4 separate regions of the Homo sapiens genome follow, and all the other regions are reported to be linked to region 1. The links are microRNA targets in miRTarBase. Many come from high-throughput screens and were not tested one by one. Region 1 holds a microRNA gene; each other region holds the end of a gene's coding sequence.

Evidence for each region. The annotated mature microRNA hsa-miR-519b-3p reads AAAGUGCAUCCUUUUAGAGGUU and lies in region 1 at 2,086-2,107, shown strand. An mRNA with a match to its seed (bases 2 to 7 or 8) in the 3' UTR can be bound and repressed. Matches are read on the target gene's strand: a 7mer-m8 pairs with bases 2 to 8, a 7mer-A1 pairs with bases 2 to 7 and ends in A, and an 8mer does both.
Region 2: miRTarBase lists MAVS as a target of hsa-miR-519b-3p. Seed matches in the 3' UTR shown: 7mer-m8 at 3,697-3,703 and 7mer-m8 at 4,440-4,446.
Region 3: the mRNA of TSG101 is a reported target of hsa-miR-519b-3p. Seed matches in the 3' UTR shown: 7mer-m8 at 4,148-4,154.
Region 4: the mRNA of TFAP4 is a reported target of hsa-miR-519b-3p. Seed matches in the 3' UTR shown: 7mer-A1 at 1,286-1,292.

Annotation. Positions count from the first base shown.
Region 1 is chr19:53,693,178-53,698,349 of GRCh38, forward strand. It overlaps MIR519B (microRNA 519b), which reads left to right and starts at 2,036; the gene lies at 2,036-2,116. MIR526B (microRNA 526b) reads left to right here and starts at 1,216; the gene lies at 1,216-1,298. MIR525 (microRNA 525) reads left to right here and starts at 4,356; the gene lies at 4,356-4,440. LOC107985342 (a long non-coding RNA gene) reads left to right here. Exons shown (of 3, transcript XR_007067332.1): 3 at 852-1,445.
Region 2 is chr20:3,865,650-3,870,649 of GRCh38, forward strand. MAVS (mitochondrial antiviral signaling protein) reads left to right here. Exons shown (of 7, transcript NM_020746.5): 7 at 34-5,000. The coding sequence ends at 498. Among named protein-coding and RNA genes, the nearest start is that of PANK2-AS1, 21 kb to the right of the region's middle. RefSeq lists an enhancer at 363-864.
Region 3 is chr11:18,476,226-18,481,225 of GRCh38, forward strand. TSG101 (tumor susceptibility 101) reads right to left here. Exons shown (of 10, transcript NM_006292.4): 10 at 4,086-4,410. The coding sequence ends at 4,321. LDHAL6A (lactate dehydrogenase A like 6A) reads left to right here. Exons shown (of 7, transcript NM_144972.5): 5 at 159-276; 6 at 1,395-1,518; 7 at 2,481-3,376. The coding sequence ends at 2,645. Among named protein-coding and RNA genes, the nearest start is that of LDHAL6A, 23 kb to the left of the region's middle.
Region 4 is chr16:4,253,897-4,258,896 of GRCh38, reverse strand. TFAP4 (transcription factor AP-4) reads left to right here. Exons shown (of 7, transcript NM_003223.3): 7 at 648-1,711. The coding sequence ends at 842. Among named protein-coding and RNA genes, the nearest start is that of LINC01569, 2.6 kb to the right of the region's middle. RefSeq lists a silencer at 4,840-5,000.

The DNA.
Region 1 (5,172 bases):
GCACTCACCTGTAATCCCAGCTACTCGGGAGGCTGAGGCAGGAGAATCACATGAATCTGGGAGGCGGAGGTTACAGCGAGCAGAGATCACACCGTTACACTCCTGCCTGGGCAACAGTGTGAGACTCTGTCTCTAAATAAATAAATAAATAAAAATAAAAATAATTAGGTGAATATGGGACCAGCATGGACTTGGGTGTCGCCTTTGTGCAGTGGCCAGGATATTCTATGTCATTTAAATTTTTTTATGTGTACTTCCAAAGCAAGCAGTTATGTATAGGAATTATTCTTCCTATAAGCATGCAATATTTGGAACTTTCTTTGAGACAGGGTCTCAAAAATACATGATGTATATTTCATTTTATATTCTTATATATTATGTACACACAAAATACTCTTCTAAACACAGAGAATACTCCGATATCACCTAGGGTGTGTGTGCGTGTGCGTGTGTGTGCGTGTGTGTGTGGTTCTTTTCTGAGACAATATCTGCCTCTGTCACCCAAGATGGAGTGTGGTGGTGCAATCTCGGCTTACTGCAACCTCCACCTCCCACCTAAGCCTGCTGAATTAGTCTCTACAGGCATGCACCACCACACCTGGCTAACTTCTGTAATTTTTGTACACATGGGGTCTCGCCATGTTGCCGGGGCTGGTCTCGAGCTCCTGAGGCAGGTGATCCTCCTGCCTGGGCCTCCTAAAGTTCGAGGAGTTAGAGGTCTGAGCCACTGGGCCCCACTTGTACTTGTGTATTTCTGCTCAAATTTTATTGAGTAGTTTTTACATCCTAGCCTGTGATCTACTCTGGAGAGTGTTTGTGCATATGACAGTGTATATTCTTCAACATCGTAGACTCCATTTTGGATGCTCCCTTCGTGACTGTGGGTCCTGTACTGGAACTCGAGTGAACACTTGGCTTAAAATCCATTGCTGTTCTCCAGAAATCCTGCCCAATTTTCTCGGTTAAAGGTACGTGTAGTAGGCATTGCTTTTTCTCTTTGGGGACAAAACTCAGGAGGATTGCCCCTTGATGAACAAGGCTAACCTGCTGATTCTTTGAAGCAAGGAACTGGAGATGGTCCTTATAGAGTTTTATATTCTGGATTCCATAAAACATGCATACAGGGTCAATAAATGCATCTTTATTTTTGTGTCTATTTTAACTTGGTCAAAGAAAATTCCAGGAAAAAATCCACGGCATCAGAGCAAGAAGATGTCAGGCTGTGACCCTCTTGAGGGAAGCACTTTCTGTTGTCTGAAAGAAGAGAAAGTGCTTCCTTTTAGAGGCTTACTGTCTGAGAAAAGCAACGTTGTAGTTGATGCTGATCTTTGTAATATCTTTGCAGAGCACGCTTATAATCAGACTTGGATGATGTTGGGGTTTTGTTTTTCTTTTGTTTTTTTATCTAAGACTGGGTCTCTGTTGCCCAGGCTGAAGTGCAGTGGCACAATCTTGGCTCACCACAACCTCCGCCTCCCGGGTTCAAGTGATTCTTCTGCCTCAGCCTCCCAAGTAGCTGGGATTATAGGACTGCGCCACCATGCCTGGCTAATTTTGTATTTTTAGTAGAGACAGGGTTTCTTTAGGAGCTTTTAAGGCCTCCCTTGTAGTCTATCCTGGAGGATGTTTGTGTGTGCAACAATGTATATTCTTCAACATGGTAGATTCCATTTTGACTGCTCTAATCAGGACTGTGTGTCCCTGTGCTGGAAATCAAGTGAACACTTGGCTGAAAATCCACTGCTGTTCTCTAGAAATCCAGCCCAATTCTCTTGGTTAAATATAAGGTATGCATAGTAGGCATTGCTTTTTCTTTCTGGACACAAAACTCAGGAGGATTTCCCCTTGATGAACAAGGCTAACCTGCTGAGCCTTTGTAGGAAGGAACGGGAGATGGTCTTTTTAGGGGTCTATGTTCTGGATTCCAGAAAACATGCAAACAGAGCCAATAAATAGGTCTTTATTTTTGTCTCTATTTTAACCTGGTCAAGGAAAATTTCTACAAAAAACCCAGGGTGCTGGAGCAAGAAGATCCCATGCTGTGACCCTCTAGAGGGAAGCGCTTTCTGTTGTCTGAAAGAAAAGAAAGTGCATCCTTTTAGAGGTTTACTGTTTGAGGAAAGCAACAGTGAAGTTGATGCTGATCTTGGTAATACATTTGCAGAGCATGCTTATCATCAGACTTGGATGATGGTGGGATTCTGTTTTTATTTTGTTTTTTTTTCTAAGACAGAGTCTCTCTTGCCCAGGCTGGAGTAGGGTAGCACTTCCAACGTAGATCTTTTAGGCTCAAACGGTCCTCTTTTTTTTTTTTTTTTTTTTGAGGCGGAGTCTTGCTCTGTGACCCAGACGAGAGTGCAATGGCGCGATCTTGTGTGCAAGCTCACCTCCTGAGTTCAAGCAATTCTTCTGCCCCAGCCTCCCAAGTAGCTGGGACTACAGGTGCCTGCCACCACTTCCAGCTAATTTTTGTATTTTTAGTAGAGACAGGGTTTCACCACGTTGGCCAGGCTGGTCTCAAACTACTGACCTCAAGATCCACCCACCTCAGCCTCCCAAAGTGCTGGGATTACAGGCGTGGGCCATTGTGCCCAGCGGTCCTCTTTTTTGAGATGGAGTCTTGCTCTGTGACCCAGGCTGGAGTGCAGTGGCAGGAACTTCGCTCCCTGTACCCTCCACCTCCCAGATTCAAGCCATTCTCTCCTGAGTCAGCCTCCCTAGTAGCTGAGATCGCAGACATGAGCCACCATACCCAGCTAATTTTTGTATTTTTATTATTTATTTATTTACTCATCGATTTTTGAAACAGAGTCTTACTCCGTCCATCAGGCTGGAGGTCAGTGGCACAATCCCACGTTCAAGCAATTCTCCTGCCTCATCCTCCCGAGTAGCTGGGATCACAGGCGCACACCACCACGCCCGGCTAATTTTTGTGTTTTTTTTGTTTGTTCGTTTTTTTTTTTTTTGTAGAGACAGGGTTTCAACATGTTGGCCAGCCCAGTCTCCAACTCCTGACCTTAAGTGAGCCCATACACAATCAAGAAGAGAGCGAGACCTGTTCTTTTTTTCTGTCTTTGACTATTTGAGACAGTCTTGCTCTGTCACCCGAGATGGAGTACATTAGTGTGATCTTGGCTCACTGCAACCTCTGCCTCCTGGACTCAAGCAATTCTCTTTTTTTTTTTTTTGGAGAAAGAGCCTCTCTGTGTCTCCCAGGCTGGACTGCAGTGGTGTGATCTCAGCTCACTGCAACCTCAGCCTTCCAAGTAGCTGGGATTGCAGACATGTACCCCCATACCAGCTATATATATATATGTATTTTAGACACAGTTTCACCATGTTAGCCAGGCCATTCTTGAATCCTGACCTCAGGTGATTTGCCGACGTAGGCCTCCCGAAGTGCTGGGATTACAGGTATGAGCCACTGCACTCAGCCTTTTTTCCTAATTTTGAATATGGGACCCATTATGAATTTGGGTGTCACCTATGTGCGGGGGCTATGGAAATCTCTGTCACCCCATTCATTTGTGTGTGCTGTCAAAGCACCAATATGTGGGAATTATGCTTTATGTGAGCATATAGTATATGGAACTTTGGTTTTTTTTTATACAGGGTCTCAAAAAAAAATGAGTATATTTCATCACAATGTTCTGTGTATAATTCCATACACACAAAATAGTCTTCTATACACAGAGAACACTCTTATATCACTTTGGAGTTGTTTTTGTTTGTGTATTTTGTTTTAATTTTTATGAGACAGGGCCTGGCTATGTCGCTGAGGCTGGAGGGCAGTGGTGAGATCTTGGCTCACTGCAACCTCCACCTGCCACCTCAGCCTCCTGGATTAGTGTCTACAGGCAGGCACCACCACCCCTGGGTAAGTTCTGTATTTTTGGTACTGATGAGGTTTCAGCACGTTCCACAGGCTGGACTCTTAACTCCTGCGATCAAGTGATCCTCCCGCTGTTCAAATTTTACTGAGGAGCTTTTAAGGCCTCGCCTGTGGTCTGTCCTGTAGTGTCCCTGTCCTGGAACTCAAGTGAATACTTGGTTTAAAATTGATTGCTGTTCTCTAGAAATCCAGCCCAATTCTCTTGGTTAAATATAAGGTATGTGTAGTAGGCACTGCTTTTTCTTTCTGGAGGCGAAACTCAGGAGGATTGCCCCTTGATGAACAAGGCTAACCTGCTGAGCCTTTGAAGCAAGGAACTGGAGATGGTCGTTTTAGGGGTTTATGTTCTGGATTCCAGAAAACATGGAAACAGGGCCAATAAATGCATCTTTATTTTTGTGTCCATTTTAACCCAGTGAAGGAAGATTTCAACCAAAAACCCACGGTGCTGGAGCAAGAAGATCTCAAGCTGTGACTCTCCAGAGGGATGCACTTTCTCTTATGTGAAAAAAAAGAAGGCGCTTCCCTTTAGAGCGTTACGGTTTGGGTAAAGCAACGTTGAAGTTGATGCTGATCTTGGTAATATATTTGCAGAGCATGCTTATAATTAAGACTTGGATGATGGTGGGTTTCTGTTTTGTTTTTTGTTTTAAATCAGAGTCTCACTCTGTCACCCAGGCTGGAGTGCAATGGCGCAATCTCGGCTCACTGCAACTTCCCCCTCCTGGGTTCAAGTGATTCTCCTGCCTCAGCCTCCTGAGTAGTTAGGATTACAGACATGCGCCACCTCACCCGGCTCAGTTTTTGTATTTGGTGGAGATGGGGTTTCACCATGTTAGTCAGGCTGGTCTTGAACTCCTGATCTCAGGTGATCCACCTGCCTCAGCCTCCCAAAGCATTGGGATTACAGGCGTGAGCCACCACGCCAGGCCTGTTCAACATCTTAGATTTCATTTTGGATGTTCCTGTGAGGACTGCGTGTCCCTGTGCTGGAACTCAAGTGAACGCTTGGCTCAAAATCCATTGCTGTTCTCTAGAAATCCAGCCAAATTCTATTGGTGAAATATAAGGTATGTCTAGTAGTCATTGCTTTTTCTCTTTGGAGACAAAACTCAGGAGGATTGCCCCTTGATGAACAAGGCTAACCTGCTGAGCCTTTGAAACAAGGAACTGGAGATGGTCCTTTCAGGGGTTTATATTCTGGATTCCAGAAAACATGCAAACAGGGCCAGTAAATGCATCTTTATTTTTGTGTTCATTTTAACCTGGTCAAGGAAAAT
Region 2 (5,000 bases), not on the chromosome of region 1:
CAGTCCCTTCCAGTGCTCTCCTTTCTTTCCCAGGAGACCCCAGCAGCTCCAACACCCGCCGGCGCCACTGGAGGCAGCTCAGCCTGGCTAGACAGCAGCTCTGAGAATAGGGGCCTTGGGTCGGAGCTGAGTAAGCCTGGCGTGCTGGCATCCCAGGTAGACAGCCCGTTCTCGGGCTGCTTCGAGGATCTTGCCATCAGTGCCAGCACCTCCTTGGGCATGGGGCCCTGCCATGGCCCAGAGGAGAATGAGTATAAGTCCGAGGGCACCTTTGGGATCCACGTGGCTGAGAACCCCAGCATCCAGCTCCTGGAGGGCAACCCTGGGCCACCTGCGGACCCGGATGGCGGCCCCAGGCCACAAGCCGACCGGAAGTTCCAGGAGAGGGAGGTGCCATGCCACAGGCCCTCACCTGGGGCTCTGTGGCTCCAGGTGGCTGTGACAGGGGTGCTGGTAGTCACACTCCTGGTGGTGCTGTACCGGCGGCGTCTGCACTAGTGAAGCCCTGGGCTCTTCCCACCACCCATCTGTTCCGTTCCTGCAGTACACCTGGCCCCTCTCCGAAGCCCCTTGTCCCTTTCTTGGGGATTGTGGAGGCTGGGTCAGAGGGGAGTTAAGGGACTGCAGGCCTGGCAGCAGGACATGCCTTGGCTGAACCAAGTCCTGAGAGCAGCATCTCTGTCCCCACGGTGCCTTGTGTGGGTCCCCGTCCTTGGCTTTCTGGGTCCTGGGCTGCCCCCAGTGCTCCAGACCTTCCCCACTGGCAATCCAGGTTATCATCCATGTCCTCCAGAGGAGCTTCCTCCTCCAGGCCTCAGCCCTGTTGGCCCAGGTGGAGCAGGAGGGACCACTGGAACATGTGGTGCTTGGGAATGCCTCTCCTGTTGCATTGGTCCCTGAAGGCCTCAGGGCAGGTATGTGGTGTGTGGGCGACTCCACAAGACCTGCCTCCCATCCTGGCAGCCCAGCCTGAGACCGTTGCATTGAGGCAGGCAGGAGCGGCAGGGTGGCTGCTCTCCAGGAGCCCAACTGCCTTGAGTTCCTGCCCCACTGGGCCCCCTCCCCTGCTGGGCAATCCTGGGAAGGTCTGGAGGTTCCTGTGGACCTCAGGGAAGCCAGGGGCAGCTGTCAGGCCTGAGGAAGACCTGTGGAGCTCCTCTCCAGCCTCCTCTTTCCCTCCCCTCTGGTCTCCATTCTCTTCAGCTCCCTACATGGGCTGGGGAGGAGACACCTGGTGGGCAGAGCTCAGGCAGAGGTTTGGATTTCAGCTCCCTCACTTCCGGGGCTGTGTGGCTTTGGCAGATGTCAGACTTCTGGTCTTGCTTCTCCACGTGGACAGTGAGTATCTGGCTCATTCTTCACTGGGTTCTTCTGAGATTGAACCTACAGGTGTTTGCCAAGTGCCTGGCCCAGAGCAAGTGGCCACTGCTTCTCCCATCTCTCTCCTGCCCAACCTGGTAGAGCTGAGGGCATGAGAGGCAGAGTGCACAGTGGTCAAGGGTGCAGCTCTGCAGCACAGGCAGCCTAGGCCTGCGTCCCAACCTGCCTCTCACCAGCTCTGTGACCTTGGGCAAGGGATTTATCTGTCTGTCCCTTAGTTTTCTCACCTGTAAAAGGAGGATAAGTATATATATATATTTCCCAGTGTTGTGAAGATTAAAGGAGTTTATCGATGTAGGTCTTAGGATGAGTCCTGGCATTTACCAAGGGTTGGATATATGTTATTATCACTATTAAGTGTTGAGGGTCCAGGCATGCTGGGCAACAGGGACCCCATCTCTACAAAAAAGTTTAAAAAATTAGCCAGGCGTGGTGGTGCACCTGTCGTCTTAGCTACTTGGGAGGCTGAGGTGGGAGGATCACTTGAGCCCAGAAGCTTGAAGCTGCAGTGAGCTAGGATCGTGCCACTGCACTCCAACCTGGGTGAGAGAGCGAGACCCTGTCTCAAGAAAAAGAAAAATGCAGAGAAACAGGAGTCTTGGCTACTCCTTTAGAGGCAGACTCAGACCCTCCTGCCTCACAGCTTTATCTTTGTATTTGCCCCTTACTTTATCTTGTGCCTTGAGAAATTGCTGGGGAGAGAGGTATGTCCACTGGGCAGCTGTACAGGATGGAGGATATAGGGCGTTTCCACTCCCAGCAGCCAGGTTCCCTCACCCCAAGCTCACCCACTGTTGGGGAGATTATCTACAATAACACCAGAAACACATTGGGGTGGATTGGGGGTATCCTTATGGGTTCTTTTCAGGGAACCATTGCTGGACAAGGCACAGGAGCCACCTCCATTTCTGAGCTCTGCAAGGGACAAGAACTAGAGCCATCAGGGGCTGGGCTCACTGTGGCCCCACCCCAAGCCGTCAGCCTCCAGGGATCTACACCCTGCCTTGGCTGCTACAGCTTTTTCACTCCACTGCCCTAGGGGAGTTCAGCAACCTAATGATCTCTATCTCTGAACATCTCTTCATCCCATGCTCCAAGTCCAGCAACCTGCACCCTGGAACCAGGAGTGGACCCTACCCGAGCTGTCTGTATTAATCCCCATCCCCCACCACCAATCTTAAAAAGCCCTCTGTCCCCCTACCCTAAACCCCAGTTAGGTACCCATGCTGGGCAGGTCAGTTAACAATTTATGCACAGGTACTAGTTTTATTGTATTACCGTTCCAGGGTAGCTTTGAAAAAAGTATCTCAAAAAGGCAACATGGGCCGAGCGCAGTGGCTCACGCCTGTAATCCCAGCACTTTGGGAGGCCAAGGTGGGCAGATCGCCTGAGGTCTGGAGTTCAAGACCAGCCTGGCCAACAGGGTGAAACCCCGTCTCTACAAAAATAAGAAAATTAGCCAGGTGTAGTGGCAGACGTCTGTAATCCCAGCTATTCAGGAGGCTGAGGCACGAGAATTCCATGAACCCAGGATGCGGAGGTTGCAGTGAGCCGAGATTGTGCCACTGCGCTCCAGCCTGGGCGACAGAGTGGTATTCTGTTTCAAAAAAAAAAAAAAAGGCAGTATGTAGCCCCGAAGACTGTTGCCCAAGTGGTAGAATGTTAGCACACTACCAGCCTAGGTAAAAAATACAAAAAGTAACTGGGCATGGCGGCGCCCATCTATAGTCCCAGCTACATGGGAGGCTGAGGTGGGAAGATAAGTCACTTGAGCCCGCCAGGAGGCGGAGGTTGTAGTGAGCTGAGATCGCACCACTGCACTCCAGCCTGGGTGACCGAGTGATACTCTGTCTCAAAGAAAAAAAATTATAATTTTAGCACAGTAACCAGCCATGATGGGAGATACCCTGGGTAAGGCATGTAGAAAGGGTTGAGGGACCTTCCCAGTCCCCTAGCCCCGCCTCCCATCCTCCCATCTTTTTCTTTTTTCTTTTTTTTAGAGAATCACCCAGCCTGGAGCGAAGTGGTGCAATCATAACTCACTGTATCCTTAAACTCCCGGGCTTAAGCGATCCTCCTGCCTCAGCCTTCTGAGTAACTAGGACTTCAGGTACCTGTCACCATGCCTGGCTAATTAAATTTTTTTTTCTTTTTTTTTTTTGAGATGGAGTCTTGCTCTGTCACCCAGGCTGGAGTGCAGTGGCGCGATCTCAGCTCACTGCGACCTCCACCTCCTGGGTTCAGGCCATTCTCCCGCCTCAGCCTCCAGAGTAGCTGGGACTACAGGCGCCTGCCACCACGCCTGGCTAATTTTTTTGCACTTTTAGTAGAGACGGGGTTTCACTGTGTTAGCCAGGATGGTCTCGATCTCCTGACCTTGTGATCCGCCCGCCTCGGCCTCCCAAAGTGCTGGGATTACAGGCGTGAGCCACCGCGCCCAGCCAAATTAAATTTTTTATAGAGATGAGGTCATGCTGTTATGTTGCCCAGGTTGGCCTCATGAGATCTTGCCTTAGCCTCCCAAAGTGCTGGGATTACAGATGTGAGACACTGCACCCAAACCCCACCACTTTTTTTTTTCCTTTTTCTTTTTTTGAGACAGTCTTACTCCGTTGCCCAGGCTGGAGTGTAGTGGCATGATCTCAGCTCACTGCAACCTCCGCCTCCCGGGTTCAAGCAATTCTCCTGCCTCAGCCTCCCGAGTAGCTGGGATTACAGAGGCCTGCCACCACACCCGACTAATTTTCGTATTTTTAGTAGAGACGGGGTTTCTCCATGTTGGCCAGGCTGTTCTTGAACTCCTGACCTCAAGTGCTCCACCTGCGTTGGCTTCCCAAAGTGCTGGGATACAGGAGTGAGCCACTGCGCCTGGCTGATCCCAGCACTTTTCAAATGATGCCGCTCAAAGCCGTGACTTGGCCTACTTTGAACAGCAAACTTGTTGCTGCTGTTGTCAACCTGAAGGCCTCTCAAATGCCAGCTTCAAGCAGGGTGTGAATTGGCCAGTGTCAGATCTCAGGAGTCCTGTGTTGAGAGTGTGGCTTTCAGCTGCGGGGAGCTGCACTTGGTGGGGAAAGCCAGGCAGGTCACCCTCACAGCCAGATAATGTGGAGGTCAGAACCCAAGGAAGGGAGTGAGACCTCCACTCCCAGTGGGGGACCTGGCCACCCATCCTTGGGGACCTGAGAAAGCGTACTTCACCTTGGGGTGAAGGCTGGGTGGGGCCAGAGGGACCAGTGCCCTCCTCAGTGCTTAGGGGCAGAGCCACCTGCAGCAATGGTATCTGCATATTAGCCCCTCTCCACCTTCTTTCTCCCGCTGAATCATTTCCCTCAAAGCCCAAGAGCTGTCACTGCTTCTTTCTCCCTGGGAAGAATGCGTGGACTCTGCCTGGTGATAGACTGAAGCCAGAACAGTGCCACACCCTCGCCTTAATTCCTTGCTAGGTGTTCTCAGATTTATGAGACTTCTTAGTCAAATATGAGGGAGGTTGGATGTGGTGGCTTGTGCCTGTAATCCCAGCATTTTGGGAAGCCGAGGTGGGAGGATCCCTTGAAGCCAGGAGTTTGAGACAAGCCTGGGCAACAAAGCAAGACCCTATCTCTAAAAAAAAAAAAAAA
Region 3 (5,000 bases), not on the chromosome of region 1:
TGGAGATCTAGATTTAGAATATCTGGAGTGGGGCTCAGATATCGGAACATTCCTAGTTGGAAATCACTCAGGGCAATTATAACAGTTTTGCTGAGGTCAAAAACCAAAACCCTGCTAATACCATGTAAGAAGTGGGATTTTGGGTGTCTCTTTCTTAGTTCCTGTGTGGAGTGGTGTGAACATTGCTGGCGTCCCTCTGAAGGATCTGAACCCAGATATAGGAACTGATAAAGATCCTGAGCAGTGGGAAAATGTCCACAAAAAAGTGATTTCCAGGTAATATGCTAGTTTCACATTTTCAGTACCTTAGAAGTTGTGAGCCTGAACTCTGTTAGAAGGTTGAGATTAGTCCCTTAAATATATGTTGTTGTATTTCCCATATTTTTATTTGCACTTCTGCTTTTCTGTGTGATCATATTCACCAGATTATAAATTCTTCAACAGTCAGGAACTGATTCTGTGTTGCTTATTCCTGAGCCTAACCCAGTATTGAGCACATGGTAGGGGCTCACTTGTTGACTGACAATGTATTTTTTCAAACACTTGCTATATAGTGTTTATTGTAGTGGTGGAATTGATTCCATATTAATTTCTGCATCTCTGTACTTGTAACTCAAATGTTTAACCACTGTGGCAGGGCATGGTGGCTCATGCCTATAATCCCAGCACTTTGGGAAGCTGAGGTGGTAGGATCACTTGAGCCCAGGAGTATGACACCAGCCTGGGCAACATAGGGAGACCCCATCTCTGCTGAGGTGTGGGAGGATCACTTGAGCCCAGGAGTATGAGACCAGCCTGGGCAACATAGGGAGACCCTATCTCTACAAAAAAAATAAAAAATTAGCTGAGCATATGGTGGCTTGCTTGAGCCCAGGAGGTCGAGGTGAGCTCTGATGATGCCAATGCACTCCAGCTGAGACCCTCTCTCAAAAATGCATATATATGGCCGGGCGTGGTGGCTCATGCCTCATGCCTCTAATCTCAGCACTTTGGGAGACCAGGGTAGGTGGATCACTTGAGATCAGGAGTATGAGACCAGCCTGGCCAACGTGGTGAAAACCCGTCTCTACTAAAAATACAAAAATTAGCCACGCATGGTGGCGCATGCTTGTAATCCCAGCTACTCAGGAGGCTGAGGAGGGAAGATTGCTTAAACCTGGGAGGTGGAGGTTGTAGTGAGCCGAGATCACACTACTGCCCTCCAGCCTGGGTGACAGAGCAAGACTTAAAAAAAAAAAAGAAGAAAGAAAAAATGCATACATACTACAAGTAATTTCTAGAAGTTGTTGATGGAGTCACTGCAGTTTTGTGGCATTGTTAGATACATTGCTACAAAGTGGAAGTTCAATGACAAGTGCATCTTAACTTATGTTTATGGTTTCTTCTATCTACAGTGGCTATGAGATGGTCAAAATGAAAGGTTATACTTCTTGGGGCATTAGCCTATCTGTAGCTGATTTAACAGAAAGTATTTTGAAGAATCTTAGGAGAGTGCATCCAGTTTCTACCCTAAGTAAGGTAGGACATTCATGTTCGAAAAATCATTAACTCAACATAAAATAGGGGGGTAAAGAACATTTTTGAGGCACTCTGGTTTTGGGTTTGATCTCGTGGGAAGCACCTCTCTTCCTGAAGTCTGTTCTTTGCTGCTGAAGAGTGGGGAGATTGGGGAAAGAGCCTATCTTTGTAGACCTTTGTCCTGGTCTAGTGTGACATTTCTTTTTATTAGATAAAAGTAAGTGTTTTGGCATCTTTATTATTTAACTAAGTGAACTGATTCTACCAGTATCTAGAAACATTGGGAACCACTATGGGCAGACCTTGGTACCTTTGGAGTTGTTCTCTTACAGTTTCAGTTATGTCCAATGATGAGATCTAAGAAAGCAGCACTAGACACAAAATAATTAGCAGTTAGTCTCCTGGGGAAAGGGGAGTTGGGGCATGGGTGAGATCCCTCTGCTAGTCTAAATGGGAGAGGTTATACAACAAGACAGATCTAGATCACTGCAAACAAAGTCATAGGAATTTTGAAGTGGTCTCCTGATAGGAAGTGGTATGGAGTAAGGAGATGAGGAAAGAAGGGTGAGCCCCAGCAAACATGGCAGGAGGCTGGGGCCTATATGGAGAGATGGTGGGTTGAAACTGAACAATAAATATGTCTAATCATGTTTTAAATTGTTTTCTGTCGGCCGGGCGTGGTGGTGTGTGCCTGTAGTCCCAGCTACTTGGGAGGCTGAGGTGGGAGAATGGCGTGAACCCGGGAGGCGGAGCTTGCAGTGAGCCGAGATCGTGCCACTGCACTCCAGCCTGGACGACAGAGCAAGAGTCCGTCTCAAAAAAAAAAGAAAAAAGTTCTCTGCCTTGGTACTCTGCCATAGTTCGTACTATACCAATCTGTTATTCATTCACCTCCCAACTGTTGTTTCTCATATTGCAGAACTTTGTTAAAAAAGGAATAATTTTTAAGTCTTTACTTTCAGGGCCTCTATGGAATAAATGAAGACATATTCCTTAGTGTCCCATGTATCCTGGGAGAGAATGGTATCACAGACCTCATAAAAGTAAAACTGACTCTTGAAGAGGAGGCCTGCTTGCAAAAGAGTGCAGAAACACTTTGGGAAATTCAGAAGGAGCTCAAGCTTTAAAGTTGCTTAAAGCTAATTCTGTAGATTGAAGATGAAATAGTAGTTATGGAATTGTATATGTCAAACTTTTGAATAAATTTGAATTTCTAAAAGTTGGAAAAATAGAGGAAAGAGTGACCTATTTAGTATAGCCTTCCAGCTTTTTTTTTTTTCTTTTTTGGGAGGGTCTCATTCTGTCACCCAGGCTGGAGTGCAGTGGCACAATCATGGCTCACTGCAACCTTGACCTCCCGAGCTCAGGTGAGCCTCCCACTTCAGCCTCCAGAGTAGGTGGGACCACATGCGTGTGCCTCCATGCCTGCCTAATTTTTGTATCTTTTTGTAGAGATGGGGTTTTGCCATGTCATCCAAGCTGGTTTTGAACTCCCAAAGTGCTGAGATTACAGGGGTGAGCCACTGTGCCTGGCCTTAGCTTTGATTTAGTATCCAGATGATAGATGACACTTTTTTTTTTTTTTTTTTAAAGTGACGGCATCAAAGATGTTTTTGGTACTTCTCAGTACTTGCCTTGTATGTATACGTAATTGCCATCTGGTCCACAAGAATGTGTTTACTGTGTTACACAAATCCTGATTCTTTTCATCAGGTGCATAGTAATTCTTCTCTATGGCTTAATACCTATGTTCATTTACATGCTATCTCTACAATGTAAAAATAAAAGTGTATATATATACACACACACACAGAGAGTAATCTAAATGTTCCTAACACTAGATAAAACATTGATTTGACCTTGCTGTTTTTTATTCTTTGAGTGCATTTTAATTTTTACAGAAAAGGCCTTAAGCTGTAAACCGCTTGGTGACAACAGATTAAATTGGTCATTCTTCTCTTGGGAGTAGAGTGGGCTGCCTAATTATCTTAATAACATCCCAAATTGGAATATACTTTTCTTTGTAGCCTTGTAGCCTCATGAGCTTTCTAGCACTCTCATTTTGATCAAGAACATTCTATTCTGGATGAGCTCTGCAGGACATACAGCAGCTATATAGTTCATTGGGTGGTCACAAACTTGGCTACAGAATCACTCACCATGAAGACGAAACTTTAAATGACAATAAAAGCAGGGAGGCAATGGTACACTATCTTTCCCTTTAATCCTAAAGTTATCAGGTATATAGTTTGGACCTGCCACTCTGCTCCTTTTTGATGAAAACACTTATGGTTCAGTGAGGCCTAGAAAGGAAACAAATTTAGTAGGGTTGGTAGGAGAGCATCTCCTTGGACCTTTCACAGATAAGTTACTCAAATGCTTCAATTTCAAATATTTCAAAATTTAGATTTCTATTTGGTATATCCCCATGTTAATTCACTTTATATGCTGTAGAATAATACTAAATTTCAACTTAAGATGGATTTTATGCCTTTTTTGCTAAATGAGAAGTTGGGCTTACTAAGGTTTCATGGATCTTTCCTAAAGTCCAATAAAGGAGAGAAAAATTATGCAACAAATTTTATTTAGCAGTCCCAACATTCAGCACAAAAAGTTTACAGAGGATAGAAAGTGCATTAATAAAAGCCAGTCTTTACCAAAAGAAAACAGAAAATATATTATTGATTCAAAATATTTTACACTTGAATGATAAACTGCAATAACTTATTCTGGGCACCTACTGATAAAAGGAAGAGAAGAATACTTTAAGAAGAGCTCAACCTCCAGCTGGTATCAGAGAAGTCAGTAGAGGTCACTGAGACCGGCAGTCTTTCTTGCTTTTTGCATTAGTGCCCTCAGCTGGAACTGTTTACGGGACAGAAGACGTACATGCTGGGAGGGGAGAAAAGTTTGAATAGTTTAGAATGGCTTTGATTTAGGCCCAGGCATAAAATAGACAATTTGTAACCTAGATGGGATCTAAGAACCCTAACTCATGACCTGCCAACCTTTGGAATGAATACCTCATTATATGTGGCTTTTAAGCTGCATATTATAAAGGCTTACTCAACAGGGAAAGCATTACATTGCAGGATCTGGCTCAGGAGTTTGACCTACACTTTCTTTTCCTAAGCCATGCCACTCAAGCAAGAGATTGTACAGAAAAAGAGTCCTCTCTTGGGTCTCTGGTTTATATCCAGCCATTCATGTGGTTGTACCACTTCTGAGGCACATGGTTTGGCCATTCCCCCACAGTGAGAGGAGATAGGCAAGATCAGCACATGACCTGACCAGGCTCCAGCTACAGCTGGATCAGATATCCCAAGGGTGGCTGCTATTATCCCTAAAACCATGTTCTCCATGACCCAAGAGACAGCAGTAGCCAAACTTCGCTTACTAGATTTTCCTCTGTACAACAGCATTAAGCTTGAGACAACTTTCATACAAGAGGGCTTGAAAGGGCAGCCTGATACTTTGATGTG
Region 4 (5,000 bases), not on the chromosome of region 1:
GTCTCGAACTCCTGACGTCAGGTGATCCTCCCGTCTTGGCCTCCCAAAGTGTTGGGATTACAGGCGTGAGCCACTGCGCCTGGCTGATACATATAATATAATTTCTAAGCAGCACTGGGACTGTCATCTTCCCAGAATGGATTTTTCAACTTAACAGAGGGGTTTTGAAAGTTTGTTCCTGGGTCAGGCGTGGTGGCTTATGCCTGTAATCCCGGGACTTTTGGAGGTTGAGGCAGGAAGATTGCCTGAGGTCAGGAGTTCGAGATCAGCTTGGGCAACATAGCAAGAACCCCCTCGTCTCTACCAAAAATACAGAAGTTAGCTGGGGATGGTGGCGCACCCCTGTGGTTCCAGCTACTAGGGAGGGAGCAGTAGGAGGATCGCTGGAGCCCAGGAGTCTGACTGCAGTAAGCTATGATCATGCCACTGCACTCTAGCCTGGGTGATATAGCGAGAGCTTGTCTCCAAAAAAAAAGTAAAAGGAGTTTGTTTTTCCTGTACTCTAGCGGGCCTCCCCTGCTGCTTTGCCAGGCTTTTTTCTGGGCTATGTGTTTTGGGGGTGACAGTGGCTGGCTGAGAGCCCCCACTGTCTCCTGGCTGGCCATGTATCCCCGGCCGAGCCTTCTCAGTGGTTCGTCCCTGTCCAGGCAATCCAGCACATCGAGGGCACCCAGGAAAAGCAGGAGCTGGAGGAGGAGCAGCGGCGAGCTGTCATCGTGAAGCCTGTCCGCAGCTGCCCGGAGGCCCCCACCTCTGACACCGCCTCCGACTCCGAGGCCTCAGACAGTGACGCCATGGACCAGAGCCGGGAGGAGCCGTCGGGGGACGGGGAGCTTCCCTGACTACCCCCCCAGCCCTCCTCTCCCTTCTGGGGGCTGGAGGGAGCCGGGGCAGCCACAGGGAGAGACATGGGCGAATGAGTGAGAAATTTTTACAAAATTACGATGTCATTTGGGTCTCTTTTATGACCTCTTTTTCAATACTGTAAATCGACCTTTGAACGAAGCCACTCAACCCGAGGTCCCGGGGCTGGGGTGTCGCAGAGCGTGTGGGAGCATCGGCACCCCAGGGCGGGGCCTCGGCCCCGGGGGCTGGAGGAAGCTGACACGGAGATGCCTGGCCTCTCTCTGCCAAAAAGCATTTTTTCCTTTAAATATGTTTTTTAAGAACAGGGAAAATTAAACAAAACCCCAGGTTATTTCTTCCCTGCCCAGAGCCAGCCTGGGATTGTCAGCCTTCAATCCCCTTTCCTTCCTCTTTTTGGGTTTTCTTCTTTCTCCTTTAAGCACTTACATGGTTGGGGGTAAGACTAGGCTGGGGCATTCTGGGGGCCCGGAGGTCTCCGTTGCTTCTTGGTTGGGGTTTGCTGCTGCTGTGCCCCCCTCCCCCTTCCCCATCTCGGCACTAGAATTCGCCACTCTCCCACCCCCCAGCCCCCACCTCTGCCTCCAGGTCTCATCTTCCACCCCAAAAATGTCTGTCTCTCTCTTTTTGTTTTGTTTGTTGTTGGTTTTTTATTTCTTTTTGGTTTGCTTTCTGTTTTTGTTTTGTTTTTCTTTTTTTTCTTTCTTTTTTTTTTTTTTTTACAATTTTGAGGTCTTCGTGTTCAAGGAGAAGCTATTATATTTTGTTAAGAAAGTGGGGAGAAAAAAACCAAGAGGCCACCGTGCCTTTGTAAAGAAACAAAATAAAGTTTGTACTTTGTTTTTTAGATTCTGAGTCTCCTGGGTGTGGGCTGGCCTGAAGACCAGGGCAGGGCTACCCCATCTAGAGTAGGGGGGCTCCTTGGGCCCCCCAAAGCGGACTGGGTGTGTGTGAGCACAGTTACTCCCTCAGCTTGTGTGTGGTGTTGCGATGAAAAATTGGGGTCCTCAGTTTCCCTGGGATGACCCTGGGTATTCTGTAAAGATGGAAGATGGTGTTGAGGCTGGGGAGTGGCTCTTTGGTGGGCGGCAAGGAGAGAAGGACAACCAAGCCACCGATTCCGAAAACCTGGGAAAGGACACAGGTGTTCAGGGGCCCTGCTTGGTCCCTACGCTTTGGTTAATCCCTAGGTTTTGCCACTTCCTGGGCTTCTGTAACTTCTCTGAGCCTCATCCTCTCCTCCCCTAGGAGGGGAACCCCACCCCCTCCAACCGCACCCCCCCAGCACCCCCCTGCCCCCCCGTGGTGTGGTGTTTAAGTGCTAAGATCCTGGAATTGGTCTGCCAGAGGTCAGTTCCCCCTCTGACAAACCGCTTCCTCTGAGCCTCAATTTCTTCTTCTAAAAATTGGCGATAATAACGGCACAAGGACATTGCATCCTATTGGGGATTGGCATGGTCCTTTATTTCGAGACAGAGTCTCTGTCTCCCAGTCTGGAGTGCAGTGGCGTGATCTCGGCTCACTGCATCCTCTATCTCCTGGGTTCAAGCAATCTTCTTGCCTCAGCCTCTCAAGTAGCTGGGACTACGGGAGTGCACCACCATGCCCAGCTAATTTTTGTATTTTTAGTAGAGACAGGGTTTCACCATGTTGACCAGGCTGGTCTTGAACTCCTGACCTCAAGTGATCCGCCTACCTCGGCCTCCCAAAGTTCTGGGATTAAAGGGATGAGCCACCATGCCTGGCTATTTTTAAATTTTTATTATTATTTTTTGGTGTGAGATGGGGTCCTGCTCTGTCGCCCAGGCTGCAGTGCAGTGTTTTGATCACAGTTCACTGCATCCTTGACCTCCTGGTCTCAAGTGATCCTCCCACCTCAGCCTCCCTAGTAGCTAGGACTACAGGCCTGTACCACAAAGCCTGGCTAATTTTTTTTTTTTTTTTTTTTTTTGAGATGGAGTCTTGCTGTGTCACCCAGGCTGGAATGCAATGGCACGATCTTGGCTCACTGGAACCTCTGCCTCACAGGTTCAAGCGATTCTCCTGCCTCAACCTCCTGAGTAGCTGGGACTACAGGCACCCACCATCATGCCCAGCTAATTTTTGTATTGTTAGTAGAGATGGGGTTTCACCATGTTGGCCAGGCTGGTCTTGAACTCCTGACCTCAGGTGATCCACCCACCTTGGCCTCCCAAAGTCCTGGGATTACAGGTGTGAGCCACCGTGCCTGGCCTGGGCCCGGCTGACTTTTTTATATTTTATTGTAGAGGCAGGGTTTTGCCATGTTGCCCAGGCTAGGCCATGGTCCTTTAAATCCTTCACTCTTCCGTGACCAGAGATCGATTTACACCGTGGTCCCCTCCTATGCCTCATGCTCACAGTGCTGGGTGCTTGGGGACTGAGGCCAGAGCAGAAGGCAGAATCACAGCTCACCCCACGATGACAGTGGACACGAACTCTTCACAGAAAGGCAGGAGTCTGCAGGTTTTCTTGGAATTTTACAGTGAACAATTCAATGGCACTTCATACATTCACAGTGTTACACAGCCTACCTGGTTCCAAAACATGTCCGTCACTCCAAAATGACTCCATGAAGCAGTCACTCCTTCCCCCTCCTCCCAGTCTCCAGCAACCACCTGCTTTCTGGTTTTAATATCTTTTTTAAAAAATTAAAGTAGTTGGCTGGGCGTGGTGGCTCACACCTGTAATCCCAGCACTTTGGGAGGCCGAGGCGGGTGGATCACATGAGGTCAGGAGTTCAAGACCAGCCTGGCCAACATGGTGAAACCCCAACTCTACTAAAATACAAAAATTAGGCTGGGCACAGTAGTGGTTCACGCCTGTAATCCCAGCAGTTTGAGAGGCCGAGGTGGGCGGATCACTTGAGGTCAGGAGTTTGAGACCAGCCTGGCCAACATGGTGGAACCCCGTCTCTACTAAAAATACAAAAATTAGCCTGGCATGGTGGCGAATGCCAGTAACTGTGGTCCCAGCTACTGGTGAGGCTGAGGCAGGAGAATCACTTGCACCGGGGAGGTGGAGGTTGCAGTGAGCTGAGATTGTGCCACTGCACTCCAGCCTGGGTGACAGGGCGACACTCCATCTTAAAAAATAAATAAATAAATAAATAATTTTTAAAAATGAAAGTAGTTACATTTAGTAGAAGTCACACTTTCTGATTTTTGGTTTTGCGTGTTTCCTACACGCAAATGCATAGTTTCCTACCCACCACTATGATCAAGATATGATTTAAAGAAAAAATAAAACAGGCCGGGTACGGTGGCTCACGCCTGTAATTCCAGCACTTTGGGAGGCCAAGGTGGGCGGATCACCTGAAGTCGGGAGTTCGACAGCAGCCTGACCAACATGGAGAAACCTTGTCTCTACTAAAAATACAAAATTAACCGGGCGTGGTGGCGCATGCCTGTAATCCCAGCTACTCGGGAGGCTAAGACACGAGAATCGCTTGAACCCAGGCGGCGGAGGTTGCGGTGGGCCGAGATCGCGCCATTGCACTCCAGCCTGGGCAACAAGAGCGAAACTGTCTCAAAAATAAATAAATAGATAAATAATAAATAAAACCAAAGCAAAATAAAAAAGATATGAATTAGTTCCTTCATTTCCAATGCCCCCCATGCCTCTTGGTGGTCAACCCAGCCCCTAGGAGCCACTGATCTATGTTGCCATAGTCTTACCTGTGACATGTCATAGAAATGGGATAACCCTGCCTTTTGAGCCTGGCTTCTTTGCACTGCAGCCAATTTTCTCTTGCTGAGATTATCCAGCTAAATTTACATAGGATCTGGCCCGGCACAGCGACCCCTTTCGGCCAGGTGCGAAACGGCAGGCCCGACGGTCCCCACGCAGCTCCTAAGAGGATCAACAGAGGGCGCAGTGCGCCCGGAACGCCCAGCCCCTGCGAAAGCGGAGGCTCCTCTCTCGGTCCCTGCGGGACAGCTCAGTTCTCATAGGCCAGAGGCGTGGCTTGGGGGCGGGCCAGGGGAATCCCACCTCCCCTTGCATGCTCAAGCGCGCCGGGCGATGGTAGGCGGTCTCACCCGCAGGCGGTGGAAGTCAGGGGCGCGGCTGCGGCCCCGCCCCTTCCCGGACTCGCCCCGCCCGTCCCCTCGCCGCGC